2 linked regions of the Homo sapiens genome follow. The protein of the gene in region 1 purifies or fractionates together with the protein of each later gene. This does not show direct contact. Each region holds a gene or a part of one and is shown on either strand. Other genes may lie near its edges.

Region 1 (4,746 bases):
GTTAAAAGACAAGTGGGAATGAGCCAGGCAAAGCGACGGCAAGCGGCTGCAGCAAGGGAGGGTGCTGGAAGCAGAAAAAGCAGCAAAGACGGGAGGAAGTGGAGAGGAGGCAGCTCTGAAAGCAGCTCAGTGGGTGGGTGAGTCACAGCGGGTGGGAAGTGGAGGGAGGAGGGGAGTAAGGAGTTCAGCTTGGAACGTGCTGATGTACCTAAGGAACACATAAGTGCGGATTCCACCAGAGAGCTGGATACACAGCCTGGAGTAATGGAAAAGACCAGGCCTTGAGGTAAAGATACAGTAAATGGTAGCTAAAGCCATAATGGTGGATGGGATCACCTGGGGTGGCAGTACAGGTTGAGAAGAGAAAATGGGACAGGGAGCAGAGATTTCACATTTAAAAAGTGACGGAGGAGAAGACCCATGAAGTAGACATCCTCAGAGAAAATCTGGACAACAGTTATGTCAAGGAAGCCAAAGAAGTACAGTTTCAAGAAAGAAACAGTTTCAACAGTGTCAAATGCTATAGGGCCGGCATGGTGGCTCACACCTGTAATCCCAACATTTTGGGAGGCTCAGGTGGGAGGATCGCTTGAGCACAGGAGTTTGAGACCAGCCTGGGCAACATGGCAAAACATGTCTCTACCAAAAAAATACAAAAATCAGCCAGGTGTGGTGGCGTGTGCCTGTAATCCCAGGTACTTGGGAGGCTGGGATGGGAGGACTGCTTGAGCCCAGGGGGCAGAGGTTGCAGTGAGCTGAGATTGCACCACTGCACTCTAGTCTGGGCAACAGAGAGAGACCCTGTCTTTAAAATAAAATTATTTTTTACACACATACATATGTAAAAATATATATATAATATATATTATATATTTACATATAAATACATAATTTATATACATATAAATTATATGTATATATACACATATATACATATATAAATTATATATATATGTAAAATAACAAATGCTATAGGACTAACAGGTGATCAGGATTATGAGAAATCAGTGAACCCAGGGACAGCAATCCTAGCTGAAGGCAGGAGCAGATGCTCGTCTGCCAGGGTAGAGTGGGGCTGGAAACTGAGGAAGCAGAGGTGTCAAGTGTAGGCCATTATTTCAAGAAGTTCAGCTGTACAGGAAAAGAAACAGTGGCAGCTAAAGGACCAAGAGTTAAGGGGAATCTGCCTCATGCCCAGCAAAAATCTAAGAAGCTTAGGTAGCTTTCCCTAGTCTAATCCATCAGCAAAGCTAGACAATTCTGTCTCTAAATTGTATCACATATTTGTCTACTTCATTCATAGTTTGCCTGGACCACAGCAACAATCTGGTAGACAGGTCTTGTTTCCATTCTTGTCGCCCCTCCCACTCTGTCTTCCGTTTCCACACAGAAGACAAATGTAAATTCTTTGCTAACTCCTCAGTTGCTTGCACTGTACTTCAAATACATTCTAACCCCCTTACTCTGGCATCCAAGGCTCCTACACAATCTGACCCTTACCTACCTTTTTGATGTCACTGCCTGCTTTCTTTGCTTACTGACCTTCCTTCAGCTGCTCAAACTCACCAAGCTGCTTCTCACCTTAGGACATTTGGAATTGCTGTTCACCCTGCGTTTATCACTCATTCTTATCACTCACGCCCCACAGTCAAATATCACTTTCCCAGAGAGGCCTTTCCTGACTACCTAGCTAGGGTAGCCACTACTTTTCTCTCACTCTAAAGCAAAACATTTTGTTTTATGTCCATCACAGTACCAGTCATGATCTGACATTATCCAGTTTGTTTACTGATTAACCATCTGTCTTCTCACAATGAATGGTCAGAGACCTTGCCTGTCGTATTCACTGCTGTAATCCCCGGGGCCAAGTACATGCAAGTGCATGGGAGATGCAAAGACTTCCAAACGTGTCTGGGGAAGGGATAAATGAATCTCCTGGAAAGAACCGGCAGATGAGTAGGCAGAAGATAAAAATGAGAAGTGGGCAGAGTGTGATCCTTGAGGAGGAAGGAACTGAGAGGATAAACCCTTGCAGGAAGAGGGAAGCCTCTTCTACTGAGCAAGGAAGAAGTGGATGGGAAAATGAGTACTCTTGAAGACAGAAACTGAAGTAACTTTTTGGGGCAACAGTTTAGCAATCATGTATCAAAAATATGAAATGTACATAACCTTTGACCCAGCAATCTCACTTCTAGGAAATTATCCTAAGAAGATGTAATAGTAGTAGTAGTAGAATAACAGTGATAATAATGGTGATATAGCTAATATTTATTGAGTACTTAATATGTGCCAGGCAGTTGGATATGCTCTGTATTATGTATCATTTAAACTTCAGAATTATCTTTCTAAGTATGCTCTATAACACTGTCATTTTGCAGATGAAGAAACTGTGATACTGTGACTGTGGTGCTTGGTCATATAGTTAAGTTTGAAAAACCATGCAAGGATGTTCAAAGAATAGTTCTTTTTTAAAATAAAAAATTGGGGATTATCTAAATATTCATCCATAAGCACTGGTTGCATAATGGTACATACATATAATGTGGCAACCACTGAAAATTATAATGTATATTGTAACAACTGATCAGAAAGGAGATTCATGACATTGTTGAGTAGAAAAAAAGCAATGCTACAGTACATTAAGGACAATCCTATTTATGTAGAGTAGTAAACATGTATCCTTTTGTGCATATGTACATGACAAGATGCCTAACAGGACAGTCACCATTTATTGTAATTTTGTTCAAATAATGGAGAGAAAGTGAAAATCACCTGAAATCCTGCTACTCTGAGATGAACATTTTCCATAAATGTCCTTCTAGGCATCTTTCCATGATCATACGCACATAATTTCTTTTCTTTTCTTTTTTTTTATTTTTTTAGAGATGGGGTCACTCCGTCACCTGGGCAGCTTGATCATACCTCAAGCTACTGGTGTCACCTAGTTCATATACACATAATTTCTTTTCTTTTCTTTTTAGAGATGGGGTCTCATTCTGTCACCCAGGTAGCTTGATCGCAGCCCACTGCAGCCTCCAACTCCTGGGCTCAAGCGATCCTCCTACTTTAGCCTTCCAAGTAGTGGGACTGAAGGTGCATGCCACCACACCTGGCTAATTTTTAAATTTTTTATTTATTTAGAGATGAGTTCTTGCTATGTTGTCCGGGCTAGTCTTGAATTCCTGGCCTCAAGTGATCCTTCCACCCCAGCATCTTGAGTTGCTGAGACTACAGGTATGAGCTACTGTGCCCAGAAACACATAATTTCTTACTATGAAAGCTATTCAGAATTATAAAGCAATGTTTACCAAATTGTATTCCTTTGAACACTAGTGTATCAGTGATGATAATAATAAGAATACAATATTACTATTTCTTAAGAAAAAACTCTGCAGTCAGTAAGTTGGGGGAAGTCTGTATCAAACAGCATAAGAGATTTCCCTTTCGTATGTGAACCTGAAAAACTAGGAGTAGATGGTACAAATAATCTTAAATTATTTGTCCATGGAACACATTAAGTCTTAACCACCTACTATAAATCCTTTGCTCCAGGCAGTCTGGTATACTCATTGTTCCATGAACACACCTCCTGCTGTACTGCTCACTCAAGAAATACTTAATAAACATCTGTACATATAAACATGATGTGGTCTCCTTTTCAATTCTGTCTTCACTTCCAAATTTCACTGAAATCTGGCTTCTTCCTGAAACCATCTCAAGCCTCTTTGGCACACAATGCCTTCTTCCTTCAAGCGGTGCAAGGTGAATTTTTAATTTTGCTCATGTATTTGCACAGTTACATTTGAGGAGAAAACTCAAATGTACTTCTCTGAATTCCTGACAATGCTCTGTACCCATAATCCTTTAATACATTAAAGGAGGAAATAATTGAGCTGAGAATGCATAGCTCATGCCACCAGAGTAATCATTTATCTGACAATCTTTAATTCTGATTGCATGTCCTTTCTCGAAGAGTCCAGCTCTGTAGTACATACAGTACTATTTCCACTGCCTGTTATGAACAGGTTTGTTGTATTTTCATGAACACAATTTCCTATCCCTTCCATTTTCTATCTAGGGCCTTAAACTATCAGTAAACCATTGGGATAAAAATTATGTGTACTCCGATATATTTAAATATATCCTCACACACTTCCCAAAAGGATTTTCAGTGGTATACACTAAAAAATCAGGTAAGTGATAACAGATACTGAGTAAGTTCTAGGTGGCCAGCACTGTTGTAAGAGCTTTAAATCCACTGACTCAGAACAATGCCATTAAGTGGGTATTAAAGATAGGCAAGTGGTTAAGCAATATGCCTGTGACTGAAGAACTATTAAGTAATAGAGCCAAGAGTGGAACTCAGGTAGTCTGTCTCCAAAGCCTATACTTCACCACTATATTATGCCACACTGCCTGTATAAAACTTCAAACCATAAAAAAAACAAAAACAAAAGTCAGACATAAAGGTTGGGGACAGGTGGCAAGGAAGCTTGGTCACAGAAGGAAAAGTCCCTTATATCCAAATACATACACTTTAAACTGGTCCCACTGAGGCACTTTAGTTTTGCAGGAAGTCAGGAATATGCATTTTCCTGATTCTTAAGTATTTAAATATCACAATGTGACAATGTGAGGGCTGTCACATCTATTACTGTCTCATTTTCAATCAATCACCTGGAATAAAAACCAAACCCATCCTAGAGAAAGTCAGGCTGGTATAATTTACTAGGCTGAAAGAACTGT
Region 2 (5,397 bases), on another chromosome or scaffold:
TGGAAGCGGCCGGGGTTAGCGCTCACAGCCTCCAGGACACGGCCCACAAAATCCAGGTCATGGATGGGCTCTGCCCACATGGGGCCACCAAGCTGGGGGCGCACCGGGGACAGGTGAGCAGGGACTATGACCTTCAAGACCCTCTTGCTCCTTTGCCTCCCCTGGCCTAGCCCTACCTGGTGTCGTTGCCCACAGTGTTCACACTCGGGGGTCACAGGGGGACCACAGGCTGCAGAGAACTTGGCCCTAAACAGAGAGGGGTGGTTGGTGGGGAGGGAGGAAAACCCTGGGACTCCCCTTCTTCTCCTTCCTCCCTGCTCACCGGCCGCTGGGGACTCCTGACGCTTTGCCGAGACGCTGAAGGTGGAAGGCCCCGCAGCCCACACACTGGAACACCAGCGCCTGCTTGCTGTGGGGGGTACCAGTGGCCACGAGTTCCCAGCGTGACCACGACACCCCAACTCCTCCCTTAGACTGGCTCTGTCCCTTAAGAAGCCCCAGATCCCCCAGGGCAAGGTCCTGTCTCCTCTCTCAATCCACCACCGCTCTCTGCCCCCGGGCTGACCTGGCTGAGGCCTTGACCTTGGCCTGGCCGGTGAAGACACGGACAAAAACACGCACGTAGAAGTCAGCGCTGATGCTGAGCAGCGGCACCACGAAGCGCTGGTAGCAGTTGGCGCGGAGGTCCAGGCTGTGCAGGACGATTCTCAGGGCCTGGGGGTGGGGGGTGGGTGTCAGCCTCCCCTCCACTATCCACCCACCCCACCAGGAGCCCTATGTGGTACTCACAAGTACAGGCTCAGGGCCAGCTCCCTGGGATCCAAGCCCACCCCTGAAAGTCCTGGCTGTGGGACCCTCAACAAGTGAGTATCCCCTCTCTGTGCCTCAGTTTCTTCATCTGCAAAATCACAACAGTCCCTGTCTGTGGCACTGCTGGGGGCACTAAACGAGTGAGGAAAGCATAGATCCAACCTATTCTGACCAGCATTATCGGTGTGCCATGTGGCATGTACTGAGGACCCACGTTCCAGCCCCCAAGGGCTCTGTGGGCAGGAAGTGGGGATACTAGGTGCTGTAGAACTGCTGGGGCCTGGGCCGGGCGTGGTGGCTCATGCCTGTAATCCCAGCACTTTGGGAGGCTGGTCAGGAGTTTGAGACCAGCCTGGCTAACATGATGAAATCCCCGTCTCTACTAAAAATACAAAAAATTAGCTGGGTGTGGTGGCGGGCGCCTGTAATCCCAGCTACTAGGGAGGCCGAGGCAGGAGAATCACTTGAACCTGGGAGGCGAAGGTTGCAGTTAGCTGAGATCTCACCACTGCACTCCAGCCTGGGCAACAAGAGTGAAACTCCATCTCAAAAAAGAAAAAAAAGCAAAACGGCTAGGGCTTTCCTGCTAGTGTGAGACTCTGATATGGGAAAGGAGACAGCATTTCCCGGGCTGACTTCATGACAGGACCCTTTAGGAACAAGGGCAAGAGCCCTCTGTGGACCACGCTGGAGTGCAGTGGCACTATCAAAGCTCACAATAACTTTGAACTCCTAGGCTCAAGTGATCCTCCTGCCTCAGCCTCCAGAGTAGCTGGGACCACAGGCATCCACCACCACACCTAGGTAATTTTTAGGGTTTTTTTGTAGAGATGGGGTCCTCGCTATGTTGCCCAGGTTCCTGACCTCAAGTGATCCTCCCACCTTGGCCTCCGAAAGTGCTAGGATTACAGGCATGAGCCGCTGCACTTCGCCACTCAGCCTTCTTGAATCCTGATCAGACACTCAATAGGGTCAGACCATTTTTTTTTTTTTTTTTTGAGACAGAGTTTTGCTCTTGTTGCCCAGGCTGGAGTGCAATGGTGCCATCTCGGCTCACCGCAACCTCCACCTCCCGGGTTCAAGTGATTCTCCTGCCTCAGCCTCCCGAATAGCTGGGATTACAAGCACCCACCACCACGCCCAGCTAATTTTTTTTTTTTTTTTTTTGTATTTTTAGTAGAGACGGGGTTTCACCATGTTGGCCAGGGTGCTCTTGAACACCTGACCTCTTGAACACCGCCCACCTCGGCCTCCCAGAGTGCTGGGATTACAGGCGTGAGCCACCGCGCCCGGCCTATTTTTTTTTCTTTTTTTTGAGACAGAGTCTTGCTCTGTCGCCCAGGCTGGAGTGCAGTGGCACAGTCTCAGCTCACTGCAAGCTCCACCTCCTGGGTTCACGCCATTCTCCTGCCTCCGCCTCCCGAACAGCTGGGACTACAGGTGCCCGCTACCATGCCTGGCTAAGTTTTTGTATGTTTAGTGGAGATCAGATTTCACCATGTTAGCCAGGATGGTCTCAATCTCCTGACCTCATGATCCGCCCACCTCGACTTCCCAAAGTGCTGGGATTACAGGCGTGAGCTACCACGCCCGGCCTATTTTTTTTCTTTTTGAGATGGGGTCTCCCTCCCAGGCTGGCGTGCAGCGGAGTGATCTTGGCTCACTGCAACCTCGCCTCCTGGGTTCAAGTGATTCTCCTGCCTCAGCCTCCTGAGTAGCCGGGATTACAGGTATCTGCCACCATGCCTGGCTAATTTTTGTATTTTTAGTAGAGATGGGGTTTTACCATGTTGGCCAGCTGGTCTCAAAGTCCTGACCTCAGGTGATCCACCTGCCTAGGCCTCCCAAAGTGCTGGGATTACAGGTGTGAGCCACTGCGCCCGGCCTTCAGACCATCATTGTGCCCATTTTACAGATGCAAAAAAACCCGAGGACCAGAAAGGTGAAGTCACTTGCCCAGAGCTACCAGCAAAGCTAGGATTTAAACCCAGTCCTGGAAAAACGACCTTTAAAAAAAAAATTTTTTTTTGAAAAGTTGTTTTAATACAGAAAACTAAAATAATGTGGCCATGCACTCCTGTCCTGGCCAAAGCCACTGTCCCCAAATGACCATGATTATCAGCCATGCTCTTAGGAACTATGTGGGTTGAAGACACGCCTGTCGTTAACAGCCTGGGATGCATCTGGCCATCAGCCTGGAGGAAGCTGAGCAGGTCTGAGGAGGGGGAAAGTGTATTGGGAAGGGACTCAGACAACCACCTGTCCCCCGGTCTCCCTGGCTGGCTGGCAGAGGGCCCCTCACCATCTCGTGGCAGGCCCGGCTCTTGAGGGCCATGGCCCCGTACTTGCTGTAGCACGTCTCCCCGCTGTTCCCCGCCAACACCGCCATGTCTGTGCAGGTCACACACAGCAACCCTGCAGAGAGGGGCTGGGCAGTGAGAACCCTCCAACACCCCAAGCCCTGCTCCCACCCCAGTGCCATCCCCACCTCACCTCCTTCACTCACAGCCTGCACAGCTGCATCCAGGAAGGTGGCTGGGCTGCCATAGGGGTCCAGATCGATGACGTCAAACCTCTCCGACACCCTCTGGTGCTGGTACATCAGCATCCTGGGTGCAAAGAGGGCCAGGTCCTCAGCCTCCCACGCCAGGTACCTTCTCTGTCCCCTACACATATTAACTCGTACAGCACAGTGGTTTGGGTCTGAACTCCGGGGCCAGATTCCCAAGTTCAAGTCCTGGCTCAGTCATTTATTTATTTATTTATTTTATTTTTGAGTCGGAGTCTTGCTCTGTCAGCCAGCTGGAGTGCAGTGTTGTGATCTCGGCTCCCTGCAACCTCCGCTTCCCCAGTTCAAGCAATTCTCGCGCCTCAGCCTCCCGAGTAGAGTAGCTGGGACTACAGACATGTGCCACCACGCCCAGCTAATTTTTGTATTTTTAGTAGAGATGGGGTTTCAACATGTTGGCCAGGCTGGTCTCAAACTCCTGACCTCAAGTGATCCATCCACCTCGGCCTCCCAAAGTGCTGAGATTACAAGTGTGAGCCACTGCACTGGCCTTGGTCATTTATTAAACTGCACAATTTTCCTACTTAGGAAAAGCACCATGTGGAACTCAGTCCACACATCTAAAACAACAACAATACTGATATAAGACGTATCTGCCTGACACCATTTCAAGCAGTTTATAGATGTATTAACACATTTTTTTTTTCCTTTCTTTGGAGACAGAGTCTCGCTGTGTCACCCAGGCTGGAGTGCAGTGGTGGGTTCTCGGCGCACTGCAACTTCCACCTCCTGGGTTCAAGCGATTCTCCTGCCTCAGCTTCCCAAGTAGCTGGGATTACAGGCACGTGCCACCATGCCTGGCTAATTTTTATATTTTTAGTAGAGACGAGGTTTTACCATGTTGGCCAGGCTGGTCTCGAGCTCCTGACCTCAAGTGATCCGCCCACCTCGGCCTTCCAAAGTGCTGGGATTACAGGGGTGAGCCACTGCGTCTGACCTCATTTTAAAATTTTTGTAGAGACGGGTTTCACTGTGTTGCCTAGGCTGGTCTTGAAATCCTGGCCTCAAGCGATCCTCCTGCCTTGGCCTCTCAAAATGCTTGATTACAGGCATGAGTCACCATGCCCAGCTAATTACTTTTCATTGTCTGTGATTACTATTTGGATTCTAGTAAGGTCAGAAAAGTAAAAACTTTTTTCTCTGTAAAAGGTCAGAAGGTATTTTAGGCTTTGTGAGTCATATGTGGTCCCTACTGCATAGTCTTCTTTTTTAACCTTTAAAAATGTAAAAAACATTCTTGGGTTGTGGGCCATTGATAAACTAGGCTAGGCCGGGCGCAGTGGCTCACGTCTGTAATCCCAGCACTTTGGAAGGCCGAGGTGGGCAGATCACTTGAGGTCAGGAGTTTGAGACTAGCCTGGCCAACATGGCAAAACCCTGTCTCTACTAAAAATATAAAAATTAGCCTGGCATAGCCAGGTGCAGTGGCTCATGCCTATAATCCCACCACTTTGGGAGGCCGAGGCGGGCAGATCACGAGGTCAGGAAATCGAGACCATCCTGGCCACCATGGTGAAACCCCATCTCTACTATAAATACAGGTGGGTGTGGTAGCAGATGTCTGTAGTCCCAGCTACTCAGTCGGGAGGCTAAGGCAGGAGAATCACTTGAACCTGGGAGGCGGAGGTTGCAGTGAGCCAAGATCACGCTAGTGCACTCTAGCCTGGGCAACAGAGCGAGACTCCGTGTCAAAAAATAAATAAATAAATAAAAATAAAAATTAGCCAGGCGTGGTGGCACGTGCCTGTAATCCCAGCTACTCGGGAGGCTGAGGCAGGGGAATGGCTTGAACCCGGGAGGCGGAGGTTGCAATGAGCTGAGATCGTGCCACTGCACTCCAGCCTGGGCAACAAGGGCGAGACTACATCTCAAAAAACAAACAAACAAGCAAACAAACAAAAAAAGGCTGTGAGCCCCACAGGCTATAGTTTGCCAACTCTTGCGAAGGTCACCAATTTTGCATGTTTTGTTTCCTGATGCATTTCCAGTTCTTGAAAACGGTGCCTGACACATAGCAG

Evidence for each region. The genes of interacting proteins can lie anywhere in the genome.
Region 2: the proteins of THUMPD2 (region 1) and TRMT1 fractionate together in Homo sapiens (co-fractionation; one large-scale study listed by BioGRID). This does not show direct contact.

The regions. Positions count from the first base shown.
Region 1 is NC_000002.12:39,737,756-39,742,501, forward strand, and holds part of THUMPD2 (U6 snRNA (guanine-N(2))-methyltransferase THUMPD2), read right to left. Parts: intron 3,646-4,746; exon of another isoform or gene 3,142-3,645; intron 1-3,141. UniProt on the Homo sapiens protein: Catalytic subunit of the THUMPD2-TRM112 methyltransferase complex, that specifically mediates the S-adenosyl-L-methionine-dependent N(2)-methylation of guanosine nucleotides, most probably at position 72 (m2G72), in the U6snRNA of the major spliceosome.
Region 2 is NC_000019.10:13,109,593-13,114,989, forward strand, and holds part of TRMT1 (tRNA (guanine(26)-N(2))-dimethyltransferase), read right to left. Parts: intron 3,420-5,397; coding exon 3,304-3,419; intron 3,226-3,303; coding exon 3,113-3,225; intron 715-3,112; coding exon 566-714; intron 410-565; coding exon 323-409; intron 247-322; coding exon 177-246; intron 93-176; coding exon 1-92. UniProt on the Homo sapiens protein: Dimethylates a single guanine residue at position 26 of most nuclear- and mitochondrial-encoded tRNAs using S-adenosyl-L-methionine as donor of the methyl groups. tRNA guanine(26)-dimethylation is required for redox homeostasis and ensure proper cellular proliferation and oxidative stress survival.